Regions from separate parts of the Homo sapiens genome. Here region 1 is linked to region 2. The links come from fine-mapping of genetic effects on gene expression. A gene starts in region 2. The other region holds a variant in brackets. All regions are shown on one strand. Distances are from middle to middle. Region 1 has its middle 58 kb from the start of SNHG20. Region 2 holds the start of AANAT (aralkylamine N-acetyltransferase).

Region 1 (8,395 bases), 560 kb after region 2:
ATGACAATGTGCCCATGGAGAAGGCAGTCATGGGAGCGGTGAGTGAGCACAGGGTCATCATCAGCCCTATGAGAGTGATGTTTTAAAGGATGAGTACAAGTCTCCTGGTAGGCAAGGGGAAAAGGTCATTGCTGGGAAAGAAAATGGTGGGCAAATGGGTGTAACAAGTTTGGAGAATGGAGTGAGGAAATCAAGCAGTGGGGGGTGGAAGGTGAGAGGGAGAGGGGGTGGTGGTGGGTGGGTGGACTCCTGGACCCACAATGAGGGATAGCAGGAATGAACCATTTACAACCAGTGACCATGAAGCAGGAAACCTTCCGTGAGTGTGAAGCCTCACCTTCCTTTACTGGGCAGTGGTTTCCTAAATCCATCACTTCATTTCCTCTGTCACCTTTGCCTTGTCAAAGGTCACCAGCAGCTCTTAATGGTCAAATCTCCTGATTTTCATTGGTTTCAGTATCTCCCCAAACTCTTCCTCCACCCAGGAAGTTTTCAATCTTTTCTTACCCCAGACCTCTTTGCAGCCTAGTGACGTCTTTGGTCCCTTCTTAGTTTTTAAATGCATAGAACAAATTCATACAATCACAAGAAAGCCAACCATATGGAAATACAGTTATTAAAATATTTAAAAGCCCAGTTTGTGATGTAGAAAGATGTACTTGTTTACTAAAGCATAAATCGTACAACCCAGTGGATGGCCTTATAACCACAGTCATTTTGTAATAGTGATCAGCGTAAATGATATTGCAAGATTTCTGCAACAGCTGTGATGGAATGAAAAAATCTGTAATTGTTTTTTGGTGAGAAAGTCAAGAGTGTGTCTAATACTATTGTGTTTTGTCAACTGCATTTATAATTAGAGGAAATGGTAAATATGAGACAGAGGTTTGTGAAAACAGAGAATTATTTTTTTCTTCTATCCAAATGCATGCCCTCCCTAAATTCTATCCAAAAATCCCTTGGGGATCTTGCATGCCAGGTTCAAAACCCCAGGTTTACACTATTAATTCTCCCCCACCCTTTCCTGTGACTCTGTCCCAGCCATCTTCAGAGGAGGGGGTTGGGAGAGGGAGTGGCCTCCATCTGTCTGTCAAGGACTTCTGCTTCCTTTAATAGAAAACAAAATAAGAGGATGTGTTGAGATGAACAAAGATGTGCCAACCACTCCCAATTCCAGATAAGTGAGGCAATGCTCACCTGTCTTACCCCATCACAGGGCCTGATACCCCAACCCACCGCCCCCAAGCCATGGTCATCACCTCTGCACATAACCAAACCCCAGACACTTGGCCAAAGAGATCCAGGACCCAGAACAAGAAAAAGGAGCAAATGTATGTCCACAAATGCTTCTACACTCCTCACTTCAAGGAAGTTTAATTCCCTCCTTTTGAGAATGGGCTGAACTTAGGAACTTCTAACAAATAGAATATGGCAGAAATTATCATCTGTCACTCCTGAGACTAGGTCATAAAAGGCACTGCAACTTCCTCTTAGATCACTCCCTTTGGGGAAGTCAGCCACCATGTTCTGAGGACACTCAATTAGCCTTTGAGAGAGATCCACATGGCAAGGAACTAAGACCTTCTGCCAGCAGCCAGAGAGGAAATGAGGCCTCCAGTCCACAGCTATGTGAGGGAGCCATCTTGGAAATGGTTTCTCCAGTCCCAGTCAAACCTTCAGATGACTGTAGCCTTGGCTGACAATTTGACTACAGCCTGACAATTTGACTACAGAGAGGGAACTTGAGCCAGAACCTACCCCAGCTGAGCCACTCCCGCATTCCTGACCTTCAGAAACTGAGATAACAAGTGTTGATTGAAGCTATTAAGTTTTCGAGCACTTTGTTAAGCAGCAATAGATTGCCGATACAAGAAGTATGAAGAGGACAAATCCTGTTCCTCTCTAGGGGCCTGGAGGGGAAGGTGCTGAGGAAGAGGAGGGCAGGGTAAGTTGCCAGGGGCAGCCTTTTGAGAGGGAGGCCTCACAGGGTGTGTTGGGCACAACCTTGGCGCCTACATCCAACAGTCCTGCTGATGACTTCTGTACCTGCTGTGCCCCCCCCGTTTAAGAGCACGTTACACAACATCTCGGGTATCAGTTTCCTCAACTGTAAAGGGTGTAATAAATCAGCCTGGAGTTGCTGCAAGGGTTCAAGGAGTTAATAATAATATATGCAGTGCCAACAAGAATGCCAGGCGCACAGGAAATGCTCACTAAGTGGTGACTCTTTGCATTAACTCCAGGGCCCTCCTGGCTCCACCAGGCTCAGGTGCCCAGACTTGGCTGTTCCTGAGGGAGGCCACTCTCCTCTGACACCCAAAGGCCCTGGAACCCGAAGGATGGGGATGAGGCACTTCAGTGCAGCTGCAGTGCATCCCTGAGCTTCATCCTGTCTCCAGCTCATCCTGCCTCTGGTTTGGAAAGGGCCCTAAAGAGCACCTGACACATGAAAAGAAACTCAACCTCCCTCATAATCAGGGAAATGCAAATTGAAACCACACTGAAATGGAAGTGGTCTTAGGGTTTATCAGCAGATGACCAGATAAACACAATGCCGTGTGTCATACAGTGGAATATTACCCAGCCATGAAAGGGAAGGAACACACACCACAAACAGGTGAAGCTCTGAAACATGGTGCTCAGTGAAGGAAGCCATTTACAAAGAGCCGCATATTGCATGATTTCCATGAAATGTCCAGAATAGGCAAGTCCACAGAGACAGAAAGCAGATGGGTGGTTGCCAAGGGCTGGCAGAGGGCGAAATGCAATGATGCTTCACGGGTGTGGACTCTTTTTTGTTTGCTTGTTTTTTTGTTTTTGAGGCAGGATCTCACTCTGTCACCCAGGCTGGAGCGCAGTGGCACAATCATGGCTCACTGAGGCCTCGACCTCCCAGGCTCAAGCAATCGTTCTGCCTCAGCCTTCCAAGTAGCTTGGTCTACAGGTATGCACCACTATGCCTGGCTAATTTTTTTCATTTTTCATAGAGACGGGGTCTCCCTATATTGCCAGGCTGGTCTCAAACTCCTGGGCTCAAGCGATCCTCCTGTCTCTGCCTCCCAAAGTGCTGGGACTACAGGCAGAGTAGGGGACTTTATTTTGGGGTGACGAAAATGTTTTAGAACTAAATAGAGGTGATTGCACAACACTGTGAATGTACTTAATGCCACTGAATTGTTCACCTTAAAGATGGTTAAATTTATGTTATGCAAATTTTACCTCAATAATTTTTTTTAAAGCTACACCGAGATGTTGTTTCTGTTGTTGTTTTAGACAGGAGCTCACCCTGTCACCCAGGCTGGAGTGCAGCGGCGCAATCACGGCTCACTGCAGCCTCTACCTCCCGGGCTCAAACGATCATCCCGCCTCAGCCTCCCGAGTAGCTGGGACTACAGGCTCATGCCACCACACTCAGCTCATTTTTGTATTTTTTGTAGAGACAGGGTTTCACCATGTTGCCCAAGCTGGCCTCGAACTCCTGGGCTCAAGTGATTCTCCTGCCTCAGCCTCCCAAAGTGCTGGGATTACAGGTGTGAGCCACCATGCCCGGCCAAGATACCACTTCAGCAGATCAGCGAGAGTGAAAGGATGACCACATGCTGTCAGTGAGACTGCAGGGACAGGCTGTCTGCACCATGTTCACAAGAGTGTAAACTGGAAAAACCTTCAAGAGACCAACTTCACCATCTGACAGCATCTGTTAAAGACTTACAGCCTTTGACCCAGCAATTTCACAGCAGGTACTTACCCTGCAAATATACTAGCACACACGAGGAATGATACCAGTAGATGAATATTTGTTGCATCATTATGTGCAATGGCAAAATATTGCAAAGAATATAAACTTCGCCATGCGCCATGGCTCAAGCCTGTAATCCCAGCACTTTGGGAGGCAGAGGGCAGGTGGACCACCTGAGGTCAGGAGTTCGAGACCAGCCTGGCCAACATGGTGAAACCTTGTCTCTACTAAAAATACAAAAATTAGCCGGGCGTGGTGGTGAGTGTCTGTAATCCCAGCTACTTGGGAGGCTGAGGCAGGAGAATCACTTGAACCTGGGAGGCAGAGGTTGCGGTGAGCTGATATTGTGCCATTGCACCCCAGCCTGGGCAACAAGAGCAAAACTCCAGCTCGAAAAAAAAAAAACCCATAAATATTCAGGGGATCAGTTAATTAAATGGCAGCAATTCATACAGTGGAATCCAAAAAAGAATGAGGCCGCTCCTTGTGGGCTTACTAAGTGAAGAAAGCAAGGTACAGGGCACCATGTTTATACACCTCACTTGTATACATGTGCACTTCTTGTACATATGTGGCTGAGCATATATACAGTAGCCCTAGAAATATATGCAAGAACTAGTAAGAATTTCTCTTGGCGGGTGTGGTGGCTCACGTCTGTAATCCCAGCACTTTGGGAGGCCGAGGCGGGCAGATCA[C/G]CTGAGGTTAAGAGTTCGAGACCAGCCTGGCCAACATGACGAAACCCCATCTCTACTAAAAATACAAAAATTAGCCAGGCATCATGGCGCATGCCTGTAATCCCAGCTACTCGGGAGGCTGAGACAGGAGAATCGCTTGAACCCAGGAAGCAGAGGTTGTGGTGAGCTGAGGTCACACCACTGCACTCCAGCCTGGGTGACAGAGTGAGACTCCATTTAAAAAAAAAAAATTCTTCTGGGCATAAAGGGAGAGGCCTCCAAGAAGACCCCATTGAGCCCACCTCCTGGCGTCCACATCCTGAAGTAGTCGCTCCGTTATTGTAGTAGGATTGGTCTATCTGACCCAGAGAATATGGCAGAAGTATGTCACTTCTGAGGCTGTTAGGAGCTAAATAATGTCCCCTGACAAATTCATATATTGAAGTCCTAACCCCCAGTACTTCAGAATGTGACTGTATTTGGAGATAAGACCTTTAAAGTGATAATTATGGTAATATAATGTCACATGGGTGGGCCCTAATCCAATCTAACTGATGTCCTCATAAGAAGAGGAAATTAGGACACGAGCATAGACAGAGGGAAGACCACGTGAGGATACAGGGAGAAGACAGCCATCTCTAAGGGAGACTCAGAAAGCCTTCTGAAGCCAGGCATGGTGGCTCACCCCTGTAATCTCAGCACTTTGGGAGGCCAAGGCAGATGGATCACCTGAGGTCAGAAGTTCGAGACCAGCCTGGCCAACATGGTGAAACCCCATCTCTACTAAAATTACAAAACTTAGCCAGGCGTGGTGGCACACACCTGTAGTCCCAGCTTCTCAGGAAGCTGAGGCAGGAGAATTGCTTGAATCCTGGAGGTGGAGGTTTCAGTGAGCTGAGATCATGCCACTGCACTCCAGCCTAAGTGACAGAGTGAGACTTTGCCTCAAAAAAAAAAAAAGAAAAGAAACAAGAAAAAGAAAGAAAGAGAGAAAGAAAGAAAGGAAAGAGAGAAAGAAAGAAAGAAAGAAAGAAAGAAAGAAAGAAAGAAAGAAAGAAAGAAAGCCTTCTGAAAGAGGCCTCAGATGAAACCAATCTTGCTAATACCTTGATTGCAATGTCTCGCCTCCAGGATCGTGAAAAAAGACATTTCTGTTGTGTAAGCCACCCAGCCTGTGGTACTTTGGCAGCCCTAACAAATTAATGCAGGCAAGGTCATAAAAGGTACCGTGGCTTCTTGCCAGCTTTCCTTCTCAGAATTCTCAGTCTGGGGGAAGCCAGCCAGCAGCCATGCTGTGAGGAACCTCAAGTGGCCTCATGGAGAAGCCCACGTGGTGAGGACCTGAAGCCTCCTGCAACAGCTGTGTGAGGAGCCATCTTGGAGTGGATTCTCCAGCCTGGTCAAACCTTCTGGTGATGTCAGCCCTGGCTGACAGCTTGATTGCAACCTCTTGAGATATAACCACACAGCTAAGCTACTCTGAAATAACTGACCCATGAAAACTGCATGAGATTTAAAAAGTTTGTTGTTTTGGGCTGCCACATGTTGGGGTAATTTGTTACACAGCAATAGCTAACTATTACAGGAAGTGTCCACTTTTGTACCCATGAAAGCCTGAATTATGGCCCCCAAAGATATCCAGCTCCTAATCCCTGGAAGCTGTGAATGTAACCTTCTATGGCAAGAGGGCCTGGGCAGAAGTGATTAAGGCTTGAGGTGGAGAGAGGATCCTGGCTTTCCCGGATGGGCCCCAAATGTAATCACAAGTGTCCTTAGGAGAGGGAGTCAGAGGGAGATTTGACTACAAGGGTAAAAGAAGGTGATGTGAGGACTTTGGCAGAAAGATTTGAAGATGCTACACTGCTGGCTTTCAAGATGAAGGAAGAGGCCACAAGCCAAGGACTGCAAGGAACGTAGTAGCTCTAGAAGCTGGAAAAGCAAGGAAACAAGAGCCTCCCCTAGAGCCTCCGCAGAGAGTGCCGCCTACCAGCACCTGGATTCCAGCACCGTGAACGTGGTTTTTTATTTTTATTTGGGGAAAGGGTCTCAAAAATAAAATGTTAGCTCACTGCAGCCTCCACCTCCTGGGCTCAAGTGATCCTCCTGCCTCAGCCTCCTGAGTAGCTGGGACAACAGGCGTACACCACCAAGCCCAGCTATTTTTTTGTGTGTATTATTTGTAGAGATGGGGTTTCGCTATATTGCCTAGGCTGATCTCAAAGTCCTGGGCTCAAGTGACCCTCCCACCTCAGCCTCTCAAGTAGCTGGGACTACAGGTGCACACCACCACACCCAGCTAATTTTTTTTTCAGTAGAGACAAGGTTTCACCGTGTTGCTCAGGCTGATCTTGAACTCCTGGCCTCAAGTGATCCACCCACCTCGGCCTCCTAAAGTGCTGGGATTACAGGCGTGAGCCACTGCACCCAGTCAGTGAAAGTGATTTTGGATTTCTGATCTCCAGAACTGTAAGAGAATAACTGTTGTCTAAGCCACCATGTTTGTGTAAGTAGTGACAGCAGCCGTCGGAAACCATTTCAGCACATTTTGTGTGTTATTCTGAGGATGCAGTGTGTGCATTCGCTGGCTCATGGTGGGCCTGTTTGCCCCGGTCCCTCCTCACCTGCTGCAGCTGTGGTCGGGTCTGACCTCTGCAGGCTATTTCTAGGCCCAGACTGCCTCCAGTCCATGGGAGGCACTGGTGGGAGACTGGAGGGTAGGCATTCTGGGGAGTTCATGCTCTCCCTCTCTGTCTTGGGCTACATCTCTGCATGGCTGTGACCCCACCCATGGCTCTCCACAAGTGACCCCAGTCCTGAGGTCCTGGTAGCTCCACATCTTCCCTTTGTCCCTCCATCCCTCAGCGTGGTAGCAGCTTCCCATCCCTGCCCCCTTATCATCCATGCCATCATTAAGTGTTAAGCAAGTGATACCTGTTACCACCTTCAGTGGAAGAGCCCTATTGAGTGGCGGGTCCTGCCACCAGGAGCAGCAGTCCTGGGACGTCAGCCCCCTGCGTGGCTTGTGGGTGAGGACGGTGCCAAGAAAGACACGACTCACACAGGCACAGGATGGAACCATGCTAGACTCACCTAGACAGCAGGTGGAGCATGATCAGCTGCAATAGTGAGTGTCAGCCCCCGCCGCTCCACGTGGCCTAGCACTCCAGGGAGAGGGTCTGCGTGCACCCCTCTCACCCCAACCCCCCACTGGGAACAGATAGAGCAGTGGGTGGTGGGTGCCACAGGATGCACACACTCAGGCAGAACAGAAGGCCCATCAAGTCAAGCACAGGGAAAGGTATCCCCGAAGACAGATGCCCAGCACGGGCTGGGAGAGCTCTTTCTTTATTTGTAAGGAAGTGATCTGGGCCCACGGCCCATTCTCATGTGACTATTCGGGTTGAGAGACTGCACGCCCAAGGCTGGCTTTCCCAACACTCTCTCCATTAAATTCTCTCTGGGTTCAGTACCTGAAGTGCTTTCTATTTTCCTGCCTGGGCCTTCACGGAGCCTCAAACAATATGATAAACAAGAGAAATCGGTTATAGGAGTTAAAAATTTAAAGGCATGTTTTGTTCAGCACGAGCTCTGTCCTTGAATTGCCTCTACAGCATTCTCAGCCAGGGGTTGTCTTTAGTTTTAATTGGCTTTTTTTTTTAAGAGATGGGGGTTTCGATCTGTCACGCAGGCTGGAGTGCAGTGGTGCAATCATGGCTCACTGCAGCCTCGACTTCCTGGGCTAGAGATCCTCCCACCTTAGCCTCCCGAGGGATGCACCGTCACACCCGGCCCGGGGGTCTTTTTCCACTGTTGCACCTGTGCACGTGGGCTTCTCTCCTCCACTCAGCCACCCACTGCCTCCTCCTCCACCCTCCATTCTCTTTAGTGCCAAGCGGCCTCACTCCTCTCTGGAGCCTGCCCAGCTGTGACCTGGATTTCTCCATCATGAGGACCAGGTGGGCTGGGGGGTGGGGTGCCACTT
Region 2 (8,248 bases):
TCAGGCTGGAAAGGTAAAGACGATAACGCGAGATGTGCTCAGTGCCAGGTCTGTGGGGCAGACCTTTAGTGCAGGGGAGGAGTTGAGAGAGAAAGTGACCATCGAAACCACCAAAAAAATGCAGCCATTGCACAAGAGCCTGAAGAGAGGGCTATGCTTCCTGCACGCCGGGCCTCTCAACTGCTCTGCATGGAAAACCGGTATCTCAGAGGCATCGTCAAGGTGTCCCTGGGACATGGCCATGGGGCCCACTCCTTGGTCTGCCCCAAATGGGCTCCCTTCAGTCTGGGTGTGAAACTGGGCAGCTGACACACGGAGGGGAGGGGGTGTGTCTCCATGCGGGAAGCTCCCAGATTCCAGGTCCAGGGCTTCTGCACTGGGCCCGGTGGGGATGCTCACTGCCCCTGCACCAGGCTCTCCGGGGGTATCAGCAGCTGCAGCAGGCTCGGTGCCCGGGATGGGGTGGGGGCCGTGGGGAGGTTTTCTCCAACCCCCGGCCGTGGCAGCGAGTCAGTGTGCCTTTAATCAACGGCCTCTGCACTCCACCTCTCACTGTCACCATTAAGGCCATTCCTCTGCATCTGGCCTCTCCACCCATTTCTCCCTTCTGGAAGGATTCCTTTTTTTTTTTTTTTTGAGATACAGTCTTGCTCTGTGGCCCAAGTTGGAGTGCAGTGGTGCAATCTTGGCTCACTGCAACCTCTGCCTCCTGGGTTCCAGCAATTCTCCTGCCTCAGCCTCCCGAGTAGCTGGGATTACAGGCACCCACCACCACGCCCAGATCATTTTTGTATTTTTAGTAGAGACGGGGTTTCACCATGTTAGCCAGACTGCTATTGAACTCCTGACCTCGAGCTATCCACCCACCTCAGCCTCCTAAAGTGCTGGGATTACAGGTGTGAGCCACCGTGCCCGGCCTTTTCTGGAAGGATTCTTAAAGGTCATCGGAGCCTCCCTGTTGGCAGAATCTGAGATCTGTTCTCCATTCTTTGTGGCATTTCAGGCTCTATCTGCCCCATTTCTTGGACATTCTCCCCTGGGTTCTTCCCTTCTTGTGGCTTCACCTGTGTTCCTGTTAATAACTCCTTTCCCTGCTAACAGTGGACATCCCAAAAGCTTGGTTCTCAGCTTTCGTGTGGTGATACACATCCTCTCAGAACCTTTTTTACTGTCATGATATCAGTTATCCGCTCAATAACTGTCGTCATCATCCTCACCACATCTGATTAGGAGTGGGATGGGGGCTCTGATGGGTCAGAGGTGAGGCTCTACCAGGGCAGGTGGGGAGTTAGGTAGCATGGTCCCTGGCAGTTCTCTGTGTGCCCTGGACAACCCCTCTCCAAACTGCTATAGAATATTCTGGAGTCCTGCCTGGGTGCGGTGGCTCACGCCTGTAATCCCAACACTTTAGGAGGCTGAGGCAGGTGGATCACCTGAGTTCAGGAGTTTGAGACCAGCCTGACCAATATGGCGAAAGCCCATCTCTAGGAAAAATAAAAAAAATTAGCCAGGCATGGTGGTGTGCGCCCGTAATCCCAGCTACTTGGGAGGCTAAGGCAGGAGAATTGCTTGAACCTGGGAGGCGGAGGTTGCAGTGAGCCGAGATTGTGCCATTGCACTCCAGCCTGGGCCACAGAGCAAGACTCTGTCTTAAAAAAAAAAAAAAAAAGAATATTCTGGAGTCTTGAAGTGGAAGCCCAGTCACAGACCATGATTTTCATGGGACCGAAGAGCCTTTTGGGAGAAAACTGAACCCCATCTGGCATTTGAAATGTGTAAATCTGTCTGGGAGATCGAAAGAGGCCAGGCTGGGTGGAGAGACAGGGGGACCCCTGAGGGGAGCCATCATGGGTGAGGCAGGGTGGCATGGTACACACTGGGCAGGGAGTCGCGGTGGGTGAGTTGTGGATACAGGACTTTCAAGGGAGCTGCTGCTGGAGGGAGAGGCTGGGAACAAAGAGCCTCGGCCTCCCAAAGTGCTGGGATTACAGGCATGAGCCACGACGTCAAGCCATTTCTGTGGTTTACAGTCATCCAGTTTGTGTATCATCTGTTACAGCACCCCTGGGAAACATACAGATGCCAGCTTCTCCCTGTCTGTATCTATATATTTTTTTTTTTTGAGATAGCAGTTTCACTCTTTTTGCCCAGGCTGGAGTACAATGGCACGATCTTGGCTCACTGCAACCTCTGCTTCCTGGGTTCAAGCAATTCTCCTGCCTCAGCCTCCCAAGTGGCTGGGATTACAAGCGCCCACCACCACACCTGGCTGATTTTTTGTATTTTTAGTAGAGACGGAGTTTCACCATATTGGCCAGGCTGGTCTCGAACTCTTGACCTCAGGTGATCCACCCGCCTCAGCCTCCCAAAGTGCTGGGATTACAGGCATGAGCCACCGTGCCCGGCCTTGCCCATCAGGTTAGGTGTTTATCAGCTGTCTAGAGTGACTGAACAGGTACGACTTGGGGGGCAAAGGACACATTCTCCCCCCCATCCCCAAGATCCACCTGAGAGGCAGTCACCAGAGGCGTTGCCAGCACTCTTAACTGCAATAGCAGGACAAGACTGGGCATCTGATAAACAGTGCAATCGGTGTCCCTGGCGTGAGGATGATCTCGGAGGTGCTTCTTTTTTAGAGCCCACCTGAGGTCAGGATTTTTTTTTTTTTTTTTGAGACAACATCTTGCTCAGTTACCCAGGCTGGAGTGCAGTGGCTCATCACTGCAGCCTGAACCACCTAGGCTCAAGTGATCTTCCCACCTCAGCCTCCCAAGTAGCTGGGGCTACAGGTGTGTGCCACCATGCTTGGCTGATTTTTAAATTTTTTGTAGAGACAGGGGTCTTGCTATGTTGCCCAGGCTGGTCTCAAACTCCTGGGCTCAAGTGATCCTCCTGCCTTGGCCTCCCAAAGTGCTGGGATTACAGGTGTGAGCCACTATGCCCAGCCCCAGGGATCTCCTTCTCTCTGTACCCATCACCCTGTTGGGCCCCTCACCCTCCTTATTTTCCTTCTCATTGGTGGTGGTATGTGGTTTTCTTCCTGTTGACCAGGACAAAGGTCCCAGCGATCACCCTGCCCTCCCCTGTCTCCTCTCCTGTCCCACAAGGGTTTGAACTTCCCAGTTTCACCATGTTTAACATACCGCCTCATCTTTAAAAAAAATTTATTTTTATTTGTATTTTTTTGAGACAGGGTCTCGCTCTGTCGCCCAGGCTGGAGTGCAGTGGCGAGTCACTACAGCCTCGACCTCTCCGGCTCAAGCCATCCTCCCGTCTCTGTCTCCCAAAGTGCTGGGATTACAGCGGTGAGCCACTGTGCCTGGCTTACTGCCTCATCTTGTTCCCTGAGGTTCTAGACCTCTAGGGTGTTGTCCGGAAAGAACAGGGCCATGTGGAAGTCAGCAAAGAGAGAGGCCGATTGAACAGCAGGCTCTTCTCAGGCATCGCCAAGTGACTGATTAGGATTGGCCACCAGGGGGTGCCATGGAGCCACAGTCTATGAAGGGACAGAAGAGGCCTTTTGGGGGACCCTGGAGGTTGAAGGTGGGGATGCCCAGCTGAGGTCTTGGACATGACCACCCCACCAACCAAGCCCAAGGAGGTCTCTGGTCGGTCCTGAGAGGTCTGTTGAGGGTCCCTTCTAGCAGGCAGGTGGGCCTCAGAGTGCAGAGGGGCCCTGGGAGAAGGGGACCCAGAGACAGGAGGAATGCATGTGGTGGGTGGGCGGGGGCATCGGGACGGGGTCACTCCACGGTCAGGGGCTGTGTCCCAAACCGTATGGGTAGGAACAGGAGCTTCCTCTGCGGGGGGGTCGAAAGAGTGCACCTGTGAGGACACTGAAAACCAGCAGGAGAATCATGAAGACAGGAAACAGGAGTCTCATTGTGAGATGAGTGGGTCCCACCAGTGCAGCCGTGGCAGTGCATGTCAGGAGGCTGACCCGGCTTTGCCCCTCCCCCTTCACTTGTTGGATGGCTCTGAGCAGGTTACTGAACCTGTCTGTGCCTCGGTTTCCTTCTCTATAACGTGGTTAATACTCATTTGGCCGGGCTTCCGTGTGGATTAAAGGAGACGCGTATCCAGGGCCCGGCACATAGCAAGTGCTGTAAGCAGTGGCACTCACAGGCTGCCAGGACAGGAAGGACCCTCAGAGGTCCGTCCCAAGCTGTGTGGGTAGGAGCAGAAGCTTCCTCTGCAGGGGGTCAAAAGAGTGCACCTGTGAAATCCAACCTCCAGGACCCCCAGGAGCCCGAGATGGACACAGGATCTGCACTGCTGGGTGGGGCGGAGAGGCAGGTGCTGGCGAGAGAAGAGCTAAGGGGTGCAGGATGGGGTGTGAGCTGGAGGGCAGGGGGTAGTCAGAGCCAACAGGGAGAGGGGCCTGCATCCCGAGGGAATGCCAGCACCAAGTGCCAAGGCCTGGGCAGCCCTGGGAATGGGTGGAGCCAAGGTCAATAGCAGAGAGCTTTGTAGTTGAGATGTTTGGTAGGGCAACCTCCTGAATATTTAAATATTTAATTAAATTAAATATTTAAATAAACTTGAAGTAGAACGTACTTAAAGTGCACAAATTGGTAGCTTGAATTCCCACCCCCTCCCCCCACATAAGAGGTGGGCTTGTCCAAGACTCCGAGGGACAGAGGGAGAATCGCTGGTGCCCAGCCAGTCGGTGACAGAGCAGGGATTAGAGATGGACCCCTGAGGCTTAGCCCCACGCTCTCTTCCCCAAACCCTGGGGCCTCAGTCAGCCTCTGGTAATCCCTTCTGTGCCCAGGGCACCAGAGCTGACGTTTCCCTTCAGCAAGGCAGGGGCCGAGGCTGCCAGAGCCCTGCTGGCGTCATCCTGCCTGGGATAGCTCGAGAGGTGGGGTGGGGGGATTACAAACCTCTAACAGCACCACAGGCTGCCCGGGGAACATCTGCTACTACAGCCTTGCAGCCCGGAGTCCCGGATTTTACTGGTTCCCGTGCCTGCGGACAGGCCCCCAGGGCTAGCGGCTTTGTGGAGGGAACACTGGGTATCCTCTCCACAGTCCAGGTAGGTGGGACCCCCACTCCTGGCTCTCAGCCTTTAGGAACAGGAGCTTCTCTACTTGGAGCTTCTAGACATGGAGGGAAACATGGAAGCCATGGAGTTTATTAAGTGTCTTGGAAGGTGGAGGGAGGGATGGCCTCCTCTAAGAACTGCAAATCTGCAGGGTGTCTTGGGAGACAAGAGTGCCCAGAGGGGAATGTCTGATGAGCTGGATGTGTGGGGCAGGGGGTGTCCTATGCACTCTCCTTGCCTGCTCCTCCCCATTCCCCAGGCCCTCTGCAGCCCCCGGCTCCCTCTAACCTCCCCACCCCCCACCACAAATCCTGCATGTGTGTGGCCCAGTCTGAGGCCATCTGGATAGAAGTAGAGGCTCCCTAAGGGCCCACTTTGATTAAGGGGCTCTCTAGGACCAAGGGCTGAGGCTACCTAAAAAGCTCTCTGCCACAGGATCTTGCACCCAAAGGACCAGAAGCCTCCCTCTGGGGAGGTAAGATAAACCACATGAATGGTGGTGTGGGGGAACCGGGCGCCCACCCACTGCACAGTTGCATTAGACGTGGTCAGTGGAGGGTCACGAGTCCTGCCTCCCCTCCCACCGTGGGCAGCAGGGTTGGGGTGCCCCAGGCTCCACTGAGCCCTGCTCATCCCTGCCACCATCTCTGGGGCTCAGAAGCACCCAGACGGCACCCTGAGACCAATGTCTGCAGGTCTGCAAGGTGGCAAACCTCCAGGGATCCTTCTGGCTGAGAGGGAAAGGTGGGGAGACAGTGCCAATGTTTGCAATGCCTGGTAACAGCCTCGGGGACCAGGTACCTGGGGAATGTGCCCATTGATTTAGGGGCTGTCTCCACCCCAGTTCCTGCTACAAAAGAGGCCAGATACATACTCTGGGGCCTGCCTCCCTGGAGATGAGGATGAGACCCCTGTCCCTTGCTGTTCTCCAACAGGTGCTGGGAGGCCCTCCTTGGCTTAGGAGGACACTTCCAAAGCTGGGGCGCCCCAAGGAGGCACCAGTGGCCAGAATGTCCACGCAGAGCACCCACCCCCTGAAACCTGAGGCCCCACGTCTGCCACCTGGGATCCCCGAGTCCCCGAGCTGTCAGCGGCGCCACACACTCCCTGCCAGTGAGTTTCGCTGCCTCACCCCGGAGGACGCTGTCAGCGCCTTTGAGATCGAGCGTGAAGGTGAGTGGCCCCGCACAGGGTCAGAGGGATGCTCCACTCTGGTCCAGTTATCCTGTGGGGAGGAGACCCTTAGTCTCCTGTCCTTGGAGGCTGGGTCCCAGAGTATCAGACCATGTGTGCGCTCAAGAAAGTGGGGGAAACAGCAGCCCTAACCCCCATTTTCCTGTGGGGAACGGGGCATCTGAGTGGACACTCGGGGTGCAGCAGACAGTGGACGCGAGGCACAGCGACTACCAGTCACCCACCTGAGCCTCCTGCCACAGCCTTCATCTCCGTCTTGGGCGTCTGCCCCCTGTACCTGGATGAGATCCGGCACTTCCTGACCCTATGTCCAGAGCTGTCCCTGGGCTGGTTCGAGGAGGGCTGCCTTGTGGCCTTCATCATCGGCTCGCTCTGGGACAAGGAGAGACTCATGCAGGTGAGGACAGGGCTGCGACGCCCAGCTCCAGGGAGGCCTCTGAAGACAGAGGTCAGCCAGATGGCGGGGAGGGGAGCCCAGGGGCTGGGATTTCTTCCTCCAGAACTGGAGAGATGAGTACAGGCCACAGGCCCCTCCCAGAGCAAGACCTTCTGGGTCTTCAAGTTTTCTCCATGGGGTTGGGGGTATGGCTCCCAATTTGGGGCCCTCCTTTGCTGGGGTGGGTGCCCTGACCACAGGCACCCAGGGGACACCTGCTCCCTGCCTGGGTTGGTGGTTGGGGGGGAGCACGTGTCAGCAGAAGTGACCTGGGATCTCATCCCTTGCTCGCTCCCAGGAGTCACTGACGCTGCACAGGTCTGGGGGCCACATAGCCCACCTGCATGTGCTGGCCGTGCACCGCGCCTTCCGGCAGCAGGGCAGGGGCCCCATCCTGCTGTGGCGCTACCTGCACCACCTGGGCAGCCAGCCGGCCGTGCGCCGGGCCGCGCTCATGTGCGAGGACGCGCTGGTACCCTTCTATGAGAGGTTCAGCTTCCACGCCGTGGGCCCCTGCGCCATCACCGTGGGCTCCCTCACCTTCATGGAGCTCCACTGCTCCCTGCGGGGCCACCCCTTCCTGCGCAGGAACAGCGGCTGCTGAACTGGGCTGCCCACCTGGCTGCCAACATGATCCCCGTCTCTGCCCTGGGCTCCTCTTAGCTCAGCTGAGCATGGAGACAGCAGTTTCCAGAGAGTGGAGAGAGCAGGGCTAAATAAAGAGGAGATAAGGTGGCTTCTCACGGCCTGAGCTGGAGTGGTGTGTCTTGTCTGTCCCCACGAGGCCTCTGGACCTCCTGTGTTCTGAACTCTGTACCTGAGACCGGGCTGGGTTGGTAAGCGGGGACAATGGGAGGTGCTGTGGGGTTCCTGGCTCCTTTCCTCCTGGCAGGTGGGCAAAGGCACCAAGGCGGCATCCTCACAGTAGCCCATTGCTCGGTGGGGGGGGGGGGTGTCCTTATTCTCCCCAGCCTCATGGATGCCGCTTCCCACCCTTAGCCCCTAGGGTGGGGGAGAGTGGGGAGCAGCAGGATGGGGCAGAGGCGGGAGGCCTGTGCTGTAGAGGCAGCTTGGGGCAGGGAAGCTGGTGCAGGGCCCTCTGCCCATGGTAATCAAGTGGTCATACCCGGTGCCTCACTGGCCATCCTCAGTGTGGTGGGTGAGGCACTGGCACAGGGAGTGGACTCGTCCCCGGGTGGGGTGACAGGTCCCCTCAGTGCCATCCCCATCAGGGCAGGCCACCCTGGGCCCAGGCAGCCCCTTCCCTGCTCTGGAGCCAAGGCAGAACAGGTAGGGGTGGGAACCCCAGGGCCCTAAGGATTCAACCCAGCCCTCCCAAGTGGACCCCTGGGGTCTCCCACGTGACCCCAATCTGCTTTCTGGCCCAACTAATTCCCCAAGATGCTCCACAAGTTTTCTGCTGTCCACCGGGCCAAACTGCTGTCTCTGAGCAGCTGATGGCTGACCCCTCACCTCACCCCCAAATCCCAGTTTCATGCTACCTGAGGTCTCCGTTAAAGACAATGTACTGCCATAAAGAATATTATTTAATCCATGAGACATCGTCCGTA

What was found. PIP is the estimated chance that this variant, and not a neighbour inherited with it, causes the effect.
Region 1: its variant is fine-mapped to the expression of AANAT in spinal cord (GTEx, PIP 0.95).

What each region holds. Positions count from the first base shown.
Region 1 is chr17:77,025,952-77,034,346 of GRCh38, forward strand. No RefSeq gene overlaps it. Among named protein-coding and RNA genes, the nearest start is that of SNHG20, 58 kb to the right of the region's middle. The variant C/G (reference allele first, on the strand shown) is at 4,435.
Region 2 is chr17:76,462,690-76,470,937 of GRCh38, forward strand. It overlaps AANAT (aralkylamine N-acetyltransferase), which reads left to right and starts at 4,914. Exons shown (of 4, transcript NM_001088.3): 1 at 4,914-5,038; 2 at 5,983-6,220; 3 at 6,484-6,638; 4 at 6,976-7,428. The coding sequence starts at 6,058. The coding sequence ends at 7,281. It overlaps RHBDF2 (rhomboid 5 homolog 2), which reads right to left. Exons shown (of 19, transcript NM_001005498.4): 19 at 8,207-8,248.